2 linked regions of the Homo sapiens genome follow. Each later gene encodes a partner of the first gene's protein in a complex. Links are inferred from orthologs where the notes say so. Each region holds a gene or a part of one and is shown on either strand. Other genes may lie near its edges.

The links.
Region 2: the proteins of SUDS3 (region 1) and SIN3A are in contact, whole or in part, in an NMR structure (PDB 2N2H), measured with the Mus musculus proteins. The link is inferred for Homo sapiens from one-to-one orthologs. Residues at the interface, in NP_848737.3 of Mus musculus: Ala205, Leu207, Asn208, Tyr209, Leu210, Leu211, Gln215, Ile216, Glu218, Asp219, Leu220, Thr222, Leu223, Leu226; in NP_001103821.1 of Mus musculus: Glu616, Glu619, Leu620, Val623, Arg672, Ile673, Tyr674, Ala675, Lys677, Asp680, Ile681, Ile691, Ala692, Ile695, Val696, Arg699, Met702, Lys703, Glu706, Trp707, Glu709, Ala710, Phe714.

What each region holds. Positions count from the first base shown.
Region 1 is NC_000012.12:118,399,720-118,408,504, reverse strand, and holds part of SUDS3 (sin3 histone deacetylase corepressor complex component SDS3), read right to left. Parts: intron 7,847-8,785; coding exon 7,751-7,846; intron 6,747-7,750; coding exon 6,685-6,746; intron 6,523-6,684; coding exon 6,501-6,522; intron 5,094-6,500; coding exon 4,988-5,093; intron 1-4,987.
Region 2 is NC_000015.10:75,384,542-75,393,326, forward strand, and holds part of SIN3A (paired amphipathic helix protein Sin3a), read right to left. Parts: intron 8,275-8,785; coding exon 7,701-8,274; intron 5,281-7,700; coding exon 5,111-5,280; intron 1-5,110. UniProt on the Homo sapiens protein: Acts as a transcriptional repressor. Corepressor for REST. Interacts with MXI1 to repress MYC responsive genes and antagonize MYC oncogenic activities. Also interacts with MXD1-MAX heterodimers to repress transcription by tethering SIN3A to DNA.

The sequences.
Region 1 (8,785 bases):
AAAAATTAGCCAGCATGGTGGTGTGCGCTTGTAATCCCAGGTACTCGGGAGGCTGAAGCACAAGAATTGCTTGAACCCAGGAGGCAGGGACTGCAGTGGGCTGAGATCATGCCACTGCACTCCAGCCTGGCTGGAAGAACGAGACTCTGTCTCAAAAAAAAAAAAAAAACTGGCCAGGTATGGTGGCTCATGCTTGTAATCCTAGCACTTTGGGAGGCCAAGGTGGGTGGATTGCCTGAGCTCAGGGGTTCGAGACCAGCCTGGGCAACAAGGTGAAACCCCGTCTCTACTAAAATACAAAAAATTGGCCAGGCGTAGTGGCTTACGCCTGTAATCCCAGCACTTTGGGAGGCCGAGGCGGGTATATCACGAGGTCAGGAGATAGAGGCCATCCTGGCGAACATGGTGAAACCCCGTCTGTACTAAAAATACAAAAATTAGCTGGGCGTGGTGGCGGGTGCCTGTAGTCCCAGCTACTTGGGAGGCTGAGGGAGAGAACAGCTTGAACTCGGGAGGCGGAGGTTGCAGTGAGCTGAGATGGCGCCACTGCACTCCAGCCTGGGTGACAGTGCGAGACTCTGTCTCAAAAAATATAAATAAATAAATAAAATACAAAAAATTAGCCAGGCATATTGGCGTGTGCCTGTAGTCCCAGCTACTCAGGAGGCTGAGGTAGGAGAATCGCTTGAACCTGGGAGGCGGAGTCTGCAGTGAGCCAAGATTGCGCCACTGCACTCCAGCCTGGGCGACAGAGCGAGACTCTGTCTCAAAAAAAAAAAAAAAACCAAAAATAACACATATACATGTTACATGTGTATCCATGTATCATATCCTCACAAAGGTCTTTTAAAGAAAACAGCTGACTCTGGAAGGCTATTCCAACAATTCTCATGAGATGCATTGTATTTTCCTTCAGTGGTACTTAGAACCCAAACCCAAGAAATTCAACTGACTTAAAAGCGAACACCCAGAGTAAACAATGCAAGCTGGTCTATTACCTCTGGGAAGTGGTCTGGAACTTGGGAATGTGGCCACCTCCCAGATCCGCCTCCTTTGGAATCACTGAATGGTGGTGGCCTGAATGTCCACCATTGGTCCCTATTTGCTCCAAAGTAGAGGTGGCCAACATGCTTCCCAAAGCAGCCAACTTCCAAACCAACTGATCACCAGGTCCCTCCTGAACCGCAGTCTCTGAGACCTTCAAGGGATCCTCATGCACTACACGATGTCTTGGGGGAACCATTATCCCTAGATACCAAATCTATTAAATTATTTGAATTCTCTGAAAAGATAAGTCCTTAGATATTAAAGTGTTCAGGGCTCATACCTGTAATCCCAGCACTTTGGGAGGCTGAGGCAGGAGGATCACTTCAGCTCAGGAGTTTGAGGACAGCCTGGGCAACATAGCAAGACCTCATCTCTACTAAAAATCAAAAAAACATTAGCCAGGCATGGTAATGGAGGACTGTAGTCCCAGCTACTCGGGAGGCCAAAGTGGGAAGATCGCTTGAGCCAGGGGGATCAAGGCTCCAGTGAGCTATGATCACACCACTGCATGCCAGCCTGGGGGACAGTGAGACCCTGTCTCAAAAAAATAAAAAATGAAGTGTTCATATGGGGGGGCGGGGGCGGTTAAAGATGAAACCAAGAAGTATGTGACAACCTTAACATAAGAATTTACTTTTTAATTTCTAAAGAAAAATCAAAGGGGGGGGAAGAAATTTAAAAATATGTTTAGATATAAAATGTGCTACGAAGCAACATCAACAGGGTAGTAAAAATGTGCGTTTTTTTTTTAGGCCAATTAACCTGTTTTACAAGCTGCAACTCAGCTGCTGAAAAAAGATATTTAAATAGCCTCAAAGACTAAGCCCCAAATGTCAAACTGACTCTATTACTTTGTAACTAATGGAAATTCTGACCTGGGAATCTCTACAATTAAGTTCTTAAAGCTTTGAACCTCTACTATTAAACCGAACAAAACTAGAAATTACCACTACTGTACTATTTTCGAAAAGCAATTTCTTAAGAAGGTGGACACAAAAGTGGGGCGAGGAGGTAGGAAAATTAATTTAATTTTGTATCCTACTGAGAATCCTGGTATTAACACTTTATTTCCCCAATAAGTGAGTCCACGTTATAGCTACAGAACCTCAAGGAGTCCCAATTCTACTGGTAAATATTCACTGTTTTAAGTCTTTTGTGTCGACCGAAGGCTGAAGGGGAAAATGCTCTTGAGCAAGTGGGTGGCTTCGTTTCTGACTCACAGGCAGCCCCAGATTTAAAACAAGGAGAGAAAAACAGAAGTCCACCCGTACCATCAATTAGTTATTTTCAAATATCAGCTACTTTTTCACAGTATTTTTTGAGAGATCATTAGTCCAAATCAAAATGTGAGGCAAATTTACATAGCATGATATAGAATGCCTTAAAAGCAGTATAAGACCAAGGCAAAGGGAAGATCCTTATCTTTCAAAATGAAAGGGAGCTTGGCAAGTATTCACACCAAGATGCGATGCCTGAATCCCATTTGTTTTGCTGAAGTCATTTAAAACTCAGGAAGACATCTTCTGCCAAAAATACGGCTGCACCAAAATACTCCATACCCTCTGGAAAGAGCATAAAGCAATGTAGCTGACCTCTCAGCCACAGGCCACGTCTGCCAAAGAAAGAAAAACAAAACCTCCAAACTGATACAAAAGCCAAACATGAGCCTGGTGAGATGGGAGAGGCTGGCACTGCACCAGTGAACACCTCAGCCAGTATTCCCAGGAACACTTTTCAATTGTCATTGGGGAAGAGGGAGACCCACCTTCAACAACTGCATTATGATCTCTGACTGCCAAGGCCAAAAATGAAAAGTATACAGAATAGAGAAAAAAAACAACATTCTCAAAGTATATTTAACAAGAGAATAAGCAATTTCAATTTCACTGAAAAAGTAAAATGCATCCAGTGACATTATTTTCTAAATTTCTGCTGTTAATGTAAGAAAGATGGTGAAAATTCCTTCAAAATGCTTAGGAGTTCTAACACATCAAATCTGATCATTTTGTTTACATTAGGAAACACCAGACATTGTGGATCTCTTCTTTAAAAAAACAAGAATTTTATTTTACTGCATTTTCACCCTCAAGACATGTCTCGTAAAGTCTGAGGATTAAGCTTAGAAAGAGGAAGATTCAAAGCAACACAATTACAAAATGAACATCACTGGAAATATCACATGGCTTTAAGACTCATAGATTTGTAAAAATGTTAGTGATAAATCTCATCATTTTCAAAGATGGTTCTTATGTGTGGGCTTGATCTTTAAAGGTTATTTGGTTTTCATTATTAGAAACATTTTTCATCTCATTTTGCCCTTCTCAGTGTTAAGCTGTTAGAGCCTGCCACCTAGTGGCGATGTGTTCTGAGACATAATGTTAAGATATAACACAAACCGACCTTTCTGAAGAATGCCAAAGAACACCAACTCAGAGGGGAAGAAGTCATCAAGATCAGCCTTAGAGATAAAGCCAGCCTCCAGCATCTACTGGGCAATTAACTCACTGCAACTTAATAGGTGGAAATGATTTACTTCGGCCATGACTAGAACCCTAAGCATTTTTGACAAGTACAATGTTATCGGGTAACCAACCTAACACAATGCTGGGTTTTTTTAAGAATTCAAAATAAATAATCATTACCCCAATTTTGGAACTTTTGGTTAGATACTGAAACTCAAAGGGTCATTATATAGCCATTATAAATGATAATGAGACACCTTACAGTAACCCAGAAAAACATTCTCAATATAACCAAACAGAAAGGCAAAGCAAACCGTATGTCCACTATGCCTTAGAATGAATAGACTATGCCTGCATATGGATAAAGAATAAAAAGAAATATATCAGAATGAAAAGACCTGAGAAATGATGGCAGTATCCATTTCATATCTAGCAGAAAGCGTAATACAGAACAGAAGAAATGTTTGTTGAATGAACAAAAGTATGAGCTTTTAAGGTTCTTTCATACTGTTTTGCCATTACCTTTCCAATGAAAAATGCTAGGCGGTCTGAACGTTTCAAAGAGTCTTCAATGTAAACCAGGAATGCAGGACACAGTGGCTCATGCCTGTAATCCCAGCACTTTGGGAGGCCAAGGCAGTAATATCATGTGAGGTCAGGAGTTCGAGACCAACCTGGCCAACATGGCGAAACCTCGTGTCTACTAAAAATACAAAAACTAGCTGGGCATGGTGGCGGGTGCCTGCAATCCCAGCTACTCGGGAGGCTGAGGCAGGAGAATCGCTTGAACCTGGAAGGCGGAGGTTGCAGTGAGCCGAGATTACGCCACTGCACTCCAGCCTGGCGACAGAGCAAGACTCCGTCTCAAAAAACAAAAAACAAACTAGGAATGTTTTAGGATACAGTTCCCCCAAGCAAGTGTCCTTGACCACTTTTGCAGCTGGATCATGTAAGAAAAAAGGGTATGTGTCATCAAAAAACATCTAATAACATCTTAGAAATTCACAGTGTACATTAGCATATCGCAGGACCCAAAGGGTACTACAAGGGAGCAACCCACTTATCTTAATTAACATGATCATCCCCCAAACTGATTTGACCACAAAATCCTTTAATCCGAAGAGCACCTATTAACCTTAGCACACAGGAGCAGAGGTAAGAGGGGTCAGAGGGGGGACATACACCCCAGCCCCAGTTGGCAGGGGTACCACACAAGATACCAGCCTGCAAATTCTAGTACAGAGACACCAGAATGGAGAAGGAAGGGGAGCAGAACATGGTTTTGGGAAACGCTGCTTTCAAAGATCCACCGGAAGTATTGATTAAATGACTGCTAATACATTTTTTAATGGGTTTCTACTTTTAGTACTATGTAAGTTTAGCAGCAGCCGTGATCTGAAATAACTACAATAGCCCCAGCCCTCTTTCCAAGTGGTTCATATGAGACTCTTACTAGTCCAGGTTTTCCCATAACATACCATCTTTTGTCATAGTACAGTTTGCCATCTTCTATCCGAGCTTCGAACCTCTGGGCTGGAGATTCCGCGGGTGTTGCAGGCAAGTGCTCAGGAGAGGATGGAGATGCTGGAGGAAACCAATACTTACGTGACTAAGAATGTAACAAACACATGCGAGTCTACCAGTTAACATGCTTTAATTGAAACACTATCAGAATGTGGTAATAATCATCACTGAGCCCTTACAGTGATAATGCATGGGATTTCAGCAAAACTCTTGTATATTCCATCTAAACTTGATCATCAAAGCAACCCTGGGAAGTAGGCAAGGCAGATTAGCCTCTCAAATGGAAGAGACACCTGGGTTTCAGGAAGATTAAGGTCAAATGTGCAAATACATAAGGTCACTTAGAGTAGGACTAAAGCCCTGGTGATCAAAGGGCAAGTATTATGAAAATCTCTTAAAAATGCAATCGTTTTCAGCAGGGTGCGGTGGCGCACACCTGTGATTCCAGCATTTTGGGAGGCTGAGGCAGGTGAATCACGAGGTCAACAGATGAGACCATCCTGGCCAACATGGTGAAACCCCATCTCTAGTAAAAATACAAAAGTTAGCTGGGTGTGGTGGCACATGCCTGTTGTCCTAGCTACTTGGGAAGCTGAGACAGGAGAATCACTTGAACCTGGGAGTCGGAGGTTGCACTGAGCCGAGTTCACGCCACTGCACTCCAGCCTGGCGACAGAGCAAGACTCCATAATCCAAAAAAAAAAAAAAGGAATCACTTAAAGAACTACTAACTTTACACTCACACAACTCCCTCACCCCTCCCCATCGTGCCTCAGAAGGTCAGGATGTCTGTGGACCGCAGTGGCCCCCAGGAAGATATTACCTAGAAAAAGAAGACTCTTGTTTTCTTCCACAAGACTCAGTAAGTAGAGGGATGTGTGAGTAATCGAGTAATCGAGTAATCATGGTGCTTTAAACAAAAAAAAGATGTCACCAATTCAGAATTCTAGTTGGCAGCTAGCACTGATGATCTCAAGTGCTGTTCCGGAAGGAACAACTATGAATACTGAGCTGGTTGGTCTCTTCTATGAACTGCGAGTCAGAGCAGCCTTGGAATGCCTTACCAGAGTCAGGCCACGAAAAGCCACGGGAGCAGAACTGCCTAGGACTTGGCTTTAGAAAGCCAGTAATACTTAAAAATCCTTCTGGTTTCATTTTCAAAAATGGATGTGTACTTAAATCTTATGCCTGATGCCTACACAGAAGGAAATCAATCAATCAATCAAATGTCTCTTTTATGATAAATCCTAAGAAAAAAATAAAAACAACAAAGCAGGGGTTATGAAAAAAAAAGAAATCAGGGAGGGGTATAGTTAAGGTCCCCTTCAGTTTTCATGATGACTACTCTTAGGCAAATGATGAACATTTCATTTTTGAAAATTGCAACCATTTCCTGACAGGTATTCACACCCTTTTCCAACAACATGATAAAAAGGTTGCACAAATGCCAACACATCATGCACTCACCTGGTCTCTTGGGTGACTTAAGCTGTAGGAAGAACAACAACAAAAAATCTTAGAGAAAATCATTTCAGGTGCAACTTCAGGTGTCAAAGGTATCATAATGATTAACAAGTAACATGTTAACAAACAAAATCAGAAAACCACAAAAGCCTGAGTTTTCAAATAAATCAAAAAAGTCAAACCGTACCTTATTTAATGTTCTCAGATCCTCCATGATCTGTTCATCTGTTAACAAATAGTTTAGCTGGGGTGTTGAGAGTTAAAGGACTGTATGTGAAAAGTACAGTTTCCAGGCAAAGAGTAATCAACACAATGGTACCAGTATTTTAGAATTTACAAAGTATGATTTTGTTAAATGATGTTTCTACAGTAACAGTTTGCTTCTTAGAAATTTATGATTCTCCTACTAAATGTCATGGTACTTCAATACATAAAAGAATTCACATCCCCCACTGCTAGGATGAGAAGGTGGAATGAGCTTCATTAGGCATCTACAATAACACAGCAAAGGAAACAGTAAAATAAGAATTTCATCATGAATGTATAAAGCGCTTTTGTTCCAAAGATCTAAAGACTTCCACACACACTCACCCAAGGTAAGGCCAATCTTCCCTCAGCAACTTAACTCCTGTTGTGAAGGAGAAGCAACCTGAAGTTATGCCCTTTCCTGATGGTACACAAATGACTAAGCCATTTTGGGCAGAGAGCTATTCACCATCTCCTCGAAAGGAACAGAAACAACGCTTCTCCATCTTTCCTGTTTCCGTTACCATTTTTATGATTAAAGGGCTGCTTTATGTCTGACTGAAATCTCATTTGCTTTAATTTAAAAACAGGTTGCAATCCACTACATTATGGACATAGATAACAGAGGTACATAAAGGTAGATATTACTGCCTTCATTTTACAGTTGGAAGGTGGAAAATTACAGGTGAAAAAATTAAGGCACATCAAGTTTTCAGATGCCCCTGAATCTTGATGTTAGCATTAAAACCAGGCTGAACTTTGCATGCAAAGCACCTTTCCAAATCACAACTCTATACATCTCTCCCACCAAAAGCAGTAGCAAATGAGGACTACCATGATAAAATGAGCAACCCCTGACCTGTGGACAAACATTTAACACACGCTTTCCAGTTAAATGTTACTATTTTCTGTAGGACAACGGCCATGTGTACCCTAGCAAACGGATAAACATAGGATTCCACAGTCTTAAAAAAGAAAGGCGGTTAAGGCTTGATGTAAATGGATATCTGGAGCAGGTTTCCTCCTCTTGTCTGGGATGGGGACGGGATCATTTGGTCGCCTCCGCAACTTTCTGGTCATGATAGGTTTCACCTCCATAGAATCTGTGGCAAGAATGGAATGGGTAAATCTATCCAACTCCCACTTGAAGTCAGTAAGAATTTCTATAGTATAAGAATATCTGCCCCCCAGCCACCCAATCAGAACTGTTTTACTGGGGGTGTTTGTTCTACACATGGTCGTAGCCAGACACCCCATTAGATTTTAGAAAGCGTTTATACTTGTAAGATTCAGACCAGCTGCCCTAAGTGCACACCCCTCTCAGAAATGCAGCCCTACCGTCAAGCATTACAGCCACTGTGGGCATCTCTCCAGCACCCTCAAAACCTAGGGGATATTCCTCCTCTCCCTCAAATTAAGAAGCCCAGAGTCACAGGCTCTCGGGATAGGAAGGAACCTGAAGGTCATCTCAGCTGACTAATTTCTGCAGCTCCCAAAGAGGGTGGGTGTGCTGAAGCCCATTGGTATGAAAGGCTCTTTTAGAGGCCACTGGCCTCAGTGCCAACATTTTTATACGAAGTTTTCATTTACAGACTCGGATTTTTTTTCTCTATAACCTTTTGTAGCTACTTGACTATCAAGATGACACAATGAGGGCTCACAATAAAAGCCTCTTTCCCTTCTTCTTCACTCCTCTCTGTGGTCTCACACTGCTGCTGACTCCCCACGCCTTCAAATAGCTCCTCCCAAGAGGTGGCGCACAAGGAGGTGAACCTGCCTCCTCGGGGTTCGCTTGTCTGCTCCCTGAATACTGATCATCTTTGGGGTCCAGTCAGTTCCTTTCAGACTGTATCCCAACCAATCTGCAATCACCACTTCCAGCTCCACACATCCCTCTGAATGGCAATAGATACCTGACACCACACATTCTCCATGCCCCACAAAAACTCAGTTCTCCTCGTTTCCTCTCCCAAGGTTGCTTCTTTTCCTGTATCTCAGGGACATCCAATCTATCCCTCCTTCCATGCGAGAACAAATCTGCA
Region 2 (8,785 bases), on another chromosome or scaffold:
TTTTTTTGGGGGGGTGGGGGGGTGCTGGCAATTTTAGAAAATTAATCACACAAACCACTGTATCATTTTCTTGGAGAATAATCAAGCCAGGATTTTCAACCATATCAGTGGTCCATGGTAAAACTTTCCTATCTATTTAAAATAAGAACCATAGAGAACTCAGGATAATCGTACTATTTAAAATTCTAAGCATCTTTAAATAATTTTCTATAGGTCATATCTTTATTGCATTTTAAAATCATTTACAATTGGCTCTCATACATATTCTTTCTCATTTGATCTTCACAACTGCCCTGGGAAGGCAAGCTAGACAGAGAGTTGGGGCCAGTTAGGAGACAAATTTACACAATGCATCAGAAAGGTGGCTCACGCCTGTAATCCCAGCACTTTGGGAGGCCGAGGTGGGCCAATCACCTGAGGTCAGGTGTTCAAAACCAGCCTGGCTAACATGGCGAAACCCCATCTCTACTAAAAATACACAAATAGCCGGGCGTGGTGGCAGGAGCCTGTAATCCCAGCTACTTGGGAGGCTGGGGCAGGAGAATCGCTTGAACCTGGGAGATGGAGGTTGCAGTGAGCCGAGACTGCACCACTGCAAAGCTCACCGTGAGCTGGGGTGAGGAAGGGAGCCTTGGAGAATCATGAATGCAGTATCTATGTCTATATTCCCAGGCCAACTACAAAGCCTGAAACTCATTAAGTATTTAAGAAATAGCTGCTGAATTATTGCCCAGGGGTGCTCAGCTGAAGAAGGAGGGTTGGGACTAAAAGTCAAGGTTCCTGACTCCTAGCCCAATACTTTTCCAAACACATCACCTATTTTTCTGTATCTGATAGAAAGTATAGGGCTTAAGTTGTACATAAAGTTAACTCACTTTCCATACAGGCCAATCATGATTGACTATCAGTAGCTTTTGTGACAATCTTAGGAAACTAATGACTAGAAAGTTGAACGTTTCAGAGTTCCCATTCTCATGTCATGCTATTTCTATTTTGAAATAAAAATCCTTCCAAATGAAACTTTATCATCAAAATGACAGAAGTGAAAAATAGATACAAGAAGAAAGCAAAACGTTAATTTCAATATTGATTTGTCTGTTTAAAAAACTTTAAGATGATCATAACCACCAAGCCATTCTATTTTTAGGAAGACACATTCTTTTTAAGTGTTAGGAACCATGATAACTATTTATTCTTAAGTCCTAAATGACCAGTATGTGTATTAGTAGATAACTGGACACAGTGAAAGGTCAGAACGGTGACTGAGTGTGGCAGAAAGGGCAGTATCTCCAGCAACTACAGATGGATAAATAAATCACAATGAGTCCAGATAAAGGATTCTGATACAACCATTAAAATAATGCTTATGAGTACCTGATATCATGAGGAAGATTAAGATACAGTGTTTTAGGAGAAAAAAGAAAAGGTGGAAAAAAACAGATGGAAAGCATGACTTCAATCATACATACAGATGCTTCCACTTTCTACTTTCTTTTTGAGACAGAGTCTCGCTCTGTCGCCCAGGCTGGAGTGCAGTGGCATCGTGATCTTGGCTCAGTGCAGCCTCAACTTCCTGGGCTCAAGCAACCCTCCCATACCTCAGCCTCTTAAGTAGCTGGGTCTACAGGCATGTGCCACCACGCCCAGCTAACTTTTTTGTATTTTCAGAAGAGACGGGGTTTTGCCATGTTGCCCAGTCTGATCTCAAACTTCTGAGCTCAAGTGATCCACCCGCCTTGGCCTCCCAAACTGCTGGGATTACAGGCGTGAGCCACCGCCTCTACTTTATACTTTCTTGTTGAAGTAGACTGTATTACTGATTCCCCACCCATACTCTCTTTTTGGATATCTGGCCCCTCCTCGAGTCTTCAGAAAAGACAGCACTACAAATCCAGAGACAGCTACGGAACTCCCACCCCCACTGCTAAGCAGATCAGATTCTCTATCTTGCTAATTGGAGATGACAGAGAGGGTGTTCAATAGATTTTTTGAGGAGGAGCATCTGTATGGAAAGGTCTAGTAACACTGGGACCAGGGGTACTGGGAGGGCAAGCCAAAGCCTCAGAGGCTGGAGGAGCCTGGAGCACATGCCGTATGTTCATCTGCAGAGCAAAGCACAAGCATGGAGCAGAAGTCCAGAGTGAAGGCATGCAGGAGAGAAAAATCACCTCCCAGCCCAATCCTTCCATGGTGTGGTCCTATTTTGAGTTCTGTACTTGGATGTCTGTGAGGTTGCCTATTGTATTCTTAATACAAATCCCTCTTAAGCCAGCCTACAATAGGTAAGATAAATGTAATGGCTTCACTTGGCTGGAATGCAGTGGTGCAATCACGGCTCACTGCAGCCTCAACTTCCTGGGTTCAGATGATCCTCCCACCTTAGCCTCCTGAGTAGCTGGGACTACAGGCATGTGCCACCATGCCCAGCTAATTTTTTGTATTTTTAATACAAATAGTGTTTCCCCATGTTGCCCAGGCTGGTCTCCAACTCCTGGACTCAATATATCTGCCCGCCTTGGACTCCCAAAGTGCTGGTATTAGAGGCATGAGCCACCATGACCAGCCTTGACTTTGAAATATATGTTGTACATTCAGTCAGCAGTGGAATCTGAGGGAACACCAAATATGAGGAGAATGAGAGAAGAGATACCTCCAGTTAAAGGAGTTGAGAAGCTTGAAAATGTTTTAAAAAGTCACTGTAGGCTGGGCACAGTGGCTCATGCCCGTAATCGCAGCGCTTTGGGAGGCTGAAGTAGGTGAATTGCTTGAGCCCATAAGTTTGAGGCCAGCCTGGACAACATGGCAAAACTCCATCTCTACAAAAAATACAATAAATTAGCCGGTGTGGTGGCCCCTTTGGTCCCAGCTACTTGGGAGGCTGAGGTAGGAGGTCAAGGCTACAGTGAGCTGATCACACCACTGCACTCCAGCCTGGGCAATAGAGTGAGACCCTGGGTTGGAAAAAAAAAAAAAAAAAAAGTCACTGTTTTGGGGTTTTCTGGATGAAACCTGTTTCCATTAAAAAAAAAAAAAAAAAGCGGGGGGTGGGTGGAGATAGTATTTATTACTGATTCAAAATCATAACCAGATACAGTAAATAATTGTAACTATTGTTTCGAAAACCAACCTCAGAATTATTAAAAGTTAGTTTTATTGGATTTTTTTTTTAAGCTGTGCTGGTGGTATGAAAGACTTCGTTCCTAGCTGAAGCAGCAGCAAGCCTGTAATCAGCAACATAAGCACAGGGTAACTGGAGTCTGTATTTTATATAAATTTCAGGGAAGTTAAGGAAGATTAGTCTGAAAAAGTATGACTATGGGTGACTATGTATCCATCTAATGATTTCTGCCAGTTACCATCCAGACCTCTTATGGGAAGGCCTAACAACTTCTTCAACTTATTGGAAACAACTATCTGACAACTTTCCCCCAGATGTTAAGGTTCATTTATATGAAGGGCTCTTCCTCAATCCTGTGTAGATACTGTGGGAGGAGTACAGAGGCATGCACCCTTCCAAAACCAAGGCAAAAGCATGGGTACTTTGCAAAGAATTCAATATTTTAGCCCAAGAGAACATTAAGCAACAAGCTCTTTCCTTCTACAGTGGCAGTGTGGATTCTAGAATTAGAAATTGCTTTTTACAAGTTTTCACTTAAGTACTTCACCGCCTTTCTGCTGAGCTATTCTATGGAAGAGGGCTGTAGGTAGCCACGGTACCCAGGTGGAACAGCATGATCCTAAAGCCCTACTTCCACAAGGAATCGCAGTGGCCCATGGCCACGTGGTTCAACCAGCCAGCCCAGAAGATCTGCAGATGCAAGCAAAAGTATACCACATTGACCTGCACCCTGCATCTGGACCCATCTGACCCATGGTAAGCTGCCCCACAGTGAGGTACCACACCAAAGTACAAGCTGGCAGGGGCTTCAGCTTAGAAGAGTTAAGGGTGACCAGCATCCACAAGAGGGTGGCATTAGTACACCATGTCCCTGTGGGCCAATGTTCAGCACCTGAAGGAGTTAAGACTCCAAGCTCAACCTCTTCTCCAGGAAGCTCTTAGCCCCCAAGAAGGGAGACAGTTCTGAAAAACTCAAATCAGCCACCCAGCTGACAGGACCAATAATGCCCATATAGTACGTCTATAAGAAGGAGAAAGCTGGAATCATCACTAAGAACTTTAAGGTATTTGCCAGTCTTCACACAGCCCACATCAATTTTCAGCTCTTTGGCATATGGGCAAAAAGGGCCAAGGGAGCCACAGAACAGGATGCTGAAAAGGAAAAATGAAGCCCTGCTGGGGACTTGCAGTCAATCAGCAGTAGAGCTGGGTCTCCAGAAAAAGAAAAAAGCAGTTAACCAACAATCTCTCTGGGAGTTCAGAACTCAAGTCCAAGAAGTAGAAATGTGACTATCTGTTACAAGCTATTTTTTATATCATTGTTGTAAAGAACAACATGTTTACAAGTTCCCAGGGTGCCACAGGAAGAACACACAAAACCAACCAGAAACCTAACTTAGAGGGAACCGCAGATGAGTGAGGTGGGCAGAGTATTATAAAAGATGTTATGTGAACCCTTTCTTATAAAAAGAATTTCAAATATTAAACAATGCAAGTACATAAGAGTTACCAACACCTTGACCAGGCGCAGTGGCTCGTGTCTATAATCCCAGCGCTTTAAGAGGCCAAGACAGGAGGATCACTTGAGACCAGAAGTTCAAGACCAGCCTGGGCAAAACAGTGACACCCTGTCTCTATTTAAGGAAAAAAAAAAAAAACTTACCAACACCTATGGAAGACGCAATGTTCCACACTGTGTGCTTACCCATGGCAGACAAGGTAAGAGATAGACAAGTTGTGCAGGAAGCTGGGGTCAGGACCACTGCACTCTACAGGTGGCCAGCAAGAAAGGATATGGGGTAGGCAGGCTCATACACTGCAACTTTGTTAACATGAGAAATCAGGCATCACATTAACCTCCCCTCCTCTCTTCAGAACCCTACGTTCATAAACACTGTTATATGAAAAAGTTGCCTTTCCTTTTCCTTGCGTGGCCCATCTCTAGGTAAGGATTTCTTCCCTTACTCACCCTAGCCTCCTCCATGCCCTCACCTGTCTGACAATGCTCTGGATCAGTTTGTCCATGGTAAAGGCAATGTAGGCATGAATGGTGAACATCTCTCTCAGTGAATCTTCATACTGTGATGAGTCTATGTTGCCATCCAGCAGGCTCCGCACCATGTCCAGGAAAGCTGGGTAATAATCTTCTACATCAACATCCACTGTGGGAGAGATGGGATTGGTGAGGCCTTACCTTGCTAAGAAAAGACTAGGGATAGAGTACAGGGCAAATCCCACAGCTGGCCTAAATGGCATTTGAAAGTATGAACACTAGGTATTCAAAATATACTCACTCATTCCAATGTAAACAGAGATGAATTCCGACAGGTGACTACAATCACCAGCACTATCAGAGTGACTCTGCAACTTTAACAGTGGCTTCTAATATTCTGACTACCATGCTAGAAAGATACTTCTTTATGGTACTGCTGGGCCACTTTCAGAGAGGAAAATATCCTAGGGAAGCCAGTCCTTCAAAGAGCTGTTGGCTCCCCTGCTGAGAGAGGAACCTACTCTCCCAGCCTGCACAAGAGCATTCCTCACATGGGTCACTTGCTCATAAAGCTATTTCAATGAAGCATAAAGTACAGATGAGGAAAGGCAGACACAGCCATACTCCAGCACTGGGAAACCTCTTGGGAACACAAAAATAGGAGTGCAAATTAAATCCTTTATGAATAATGAAGTAATCTGCATTTGTCAAAGTCCTTTTGTTTAAAAATGGATTCGCTACGTTGTATTTCACAAATTGCATTAAATCATCTGTAGTTGCTGCACATGAATCATTTCAATCACTAGCTAGAATAAATCTCATCAGTTGTTAAAGACATTTGGCAACTAGCAGAGGGCACAAGGAGTATTAAAGAGTGCTGCCTTTAGCTTACTAAAGACCCATTTATATAAAGTTCAAAAATAGACAAATCTAATCTCTAGTGTTAGAAATCAACAAAGTGGAAAAAGGACTGGTTATCAGAGTACTGGTTATGTTTCGTTTCTTGAACATAGGTACGTCTAGTCTGTAAAAATTCACTGAGCTGCACAATTCTGATTTGTATACTTTTCTATATATACATGCCGTACCTTATATGTATTTTTTTGTAGAGATGGGGTCTCACTTATTAACCAGGCTGGTCTCAAACTCCTGGCCTCAAGTGATCCTCCCACATCGGCCTCCCAAAGTGCTGGGATTACAGGTGTAAGCCACTGCACCCGGCCTATACATTGCACTTCAACAAAAAGTTGACTAAAATGAAAAAAGTTACAAAACGAACTATTTGTCACTGACTAATTGGTTACTTGCTAGTTGTGTTTGTGCTGGAGAAAAAAGGCTAGGAGCAAAACCAAGTTGTCTCCATTTATCTGAAGTCTGACGAATTCATTAAAAAACAGGCAAAACAGGACAAATACTGTTTAAAAGAGGCAACTGGCTTGAGTTTCATCACAGACTATCACATTCTTTAGCTCCATAGAATAGGTATAGGCTATAGACTCCAAAATATACCACTGCTATGAAAACTGCTTTTATGCCAGAATAAAGTTTTGAGTCCAAACCACAGATTTGTCCAAACAAGCTGTGGTAAGTGTGAGGGTTGGCATTATCAGACAAGACAACATTATGTAAGCCTCAAACCAGGTTAAGTCAGTGGCCAAGCCAGGAATAGGCCATTTAATTTCTAATTTCTACCCAAGTAGATGGAATCACCACAATGAGATCTAAAATTTATCTCTTTCGAGCTAGGACTAGTCTAGATAAAAGCTTTCAGAATTATTTTTCAGTGTCATTAGCTCCTCAACAGATAGAAAGCTAGGGCCATATCTGGGCTTCCTACATCAGCAACACATAAAAAAAAAAAAAAAGAAGAAGAAGATACACTCCTCAGGTTGGCTATTTCCTTAAGAGCCCAGAAGAAATGCTTCATGAAAAAGCTTTTGGCTCACAGCTCAAGTACCTAATTTATGACGTGAACTGGAAGCAGGCAGCACAAAATTACATAAAGCACATGACAGCGTCCTGAACCCTCACTTACTTTCCTTTTCCTGAGTTCTACATCTTTATCCCTGTCCTGCCTGTTCTCCATGTCTCATATCACCTTTTGAGTTCCAGTCTCCTTTCCATAAACTATTTCTACATATTAAGAATGAGCCATAAACCCCACTGGTTAAACAGAAGTCCTGCTCAAAAATATGAGAAAATTCTGTTTTAAGCACTAGGAATTTATGTTCTGTCATGGATTGAAATTGGCTGTGACAGTTTAGTCTCTATCTGTACTTTGAAACAGATGGCAGTAACCCAGAAATCTGCCATTTGAGAAATTAACTGTGATACCCCCTTCCCAGGTGCGTCCACAGTACCAACCACTGACCAAGTGTCCATGATCTAAGCCCTGCATAGGATACTTTGCACAAAGCAACACCACAAGCAACTAGAGCCTCCATTTTTCAGATAAACAGGTTCAGAGAGTTTAACTACACAGACTCTAATGCCTGTGCTCTATTAATAAAAGAAGCAGTCCCAAGTCTAGGTGGCTCTAAGGTCCTCAACCTCACACATCCTCTGTAAATCAGAGGTCTCGGCACTCACTAGGTTCTTTGAGACGTAGCTGAATGGCAGGGCTGTCACTCTTGTCTCGCTTTATGCCCAGCACTTCCCGTTCCCATTCTCTCTCTCGGTTTTCTTCTTCAATTTGCCGTTCGGCTTGGGAACAAATCCGTAGCAGCCTCAGGCAGAGAATCTGGTGCAGTCGCATAAAAATATACCAGTTGTTGTTGACATAGAAGAGGTTGTATACTTCATCCATTCCTCTTAATTTTTGAGCTGCTGTGTTACTAAACAGTAACTTGGACTTAGGGGGACTGCCCCCAACACCATTGTGCTTCTTAACTGCCCCTGTGGCTTCATCTACATCCATCTCTTCTTCTTCCTCTTCCTCCACATCTGAGAGATCACCTCTTTGGGCAAAGAGCAAATCTGGAATAAAATGATGCATGATTTGTTTTATCTTATATTTGTCCTCCTTCTGAATGCCTGTCTGCCTCTTCACATGGTGGATAATCAGAGCAGCAGCATCTTCCAGTATTTGTTTGTCTTCATACGCAAGTGAGAGGTGTGGGCCAACAGGTACACCAGCATTCTCCTCCGTAGCCTGCTCTTGCCTCTGATGGGACAGAGACACAAAAGTATTCTGTGAGATGTCTACAGCGACAACATGTCTACAAGACCACATCAGCCATACATCCCATTATCAACCACAGTGTCTATATTTTTCTAATCAAAAACTTAGGACCTGGGACTGGGAGCGGTGGCTCACGTCTATAATCCCAGCACTTTGGTAGGCCGAGGAGGGTGATCACTTGAGGTCAGGAGTTTGAGATCAGCCTGGCCAATATGGTGAAACCCCGCCTCTACTAAAAATAACAAAATTAGCTGAACATGGTGGTAGGTGCCTGTAATCCCAGCCCTTGGGATGCTAAGGCAAGAGAATCACTTGAACCCGTGAGGCAAAGGTTGCAGTGAGCCGAGATCGTACTACTGCACTCCAGCCTGGGCAACAGAGTGAGACTCTGTCTCAAAACAAAACTTAGGACCTGACTATAACAATAATTTTTGTCCCTCTTCCAGAAACAAATAGGTAATGACAGAGACGTGGTTTGATGTCAAAATACAGG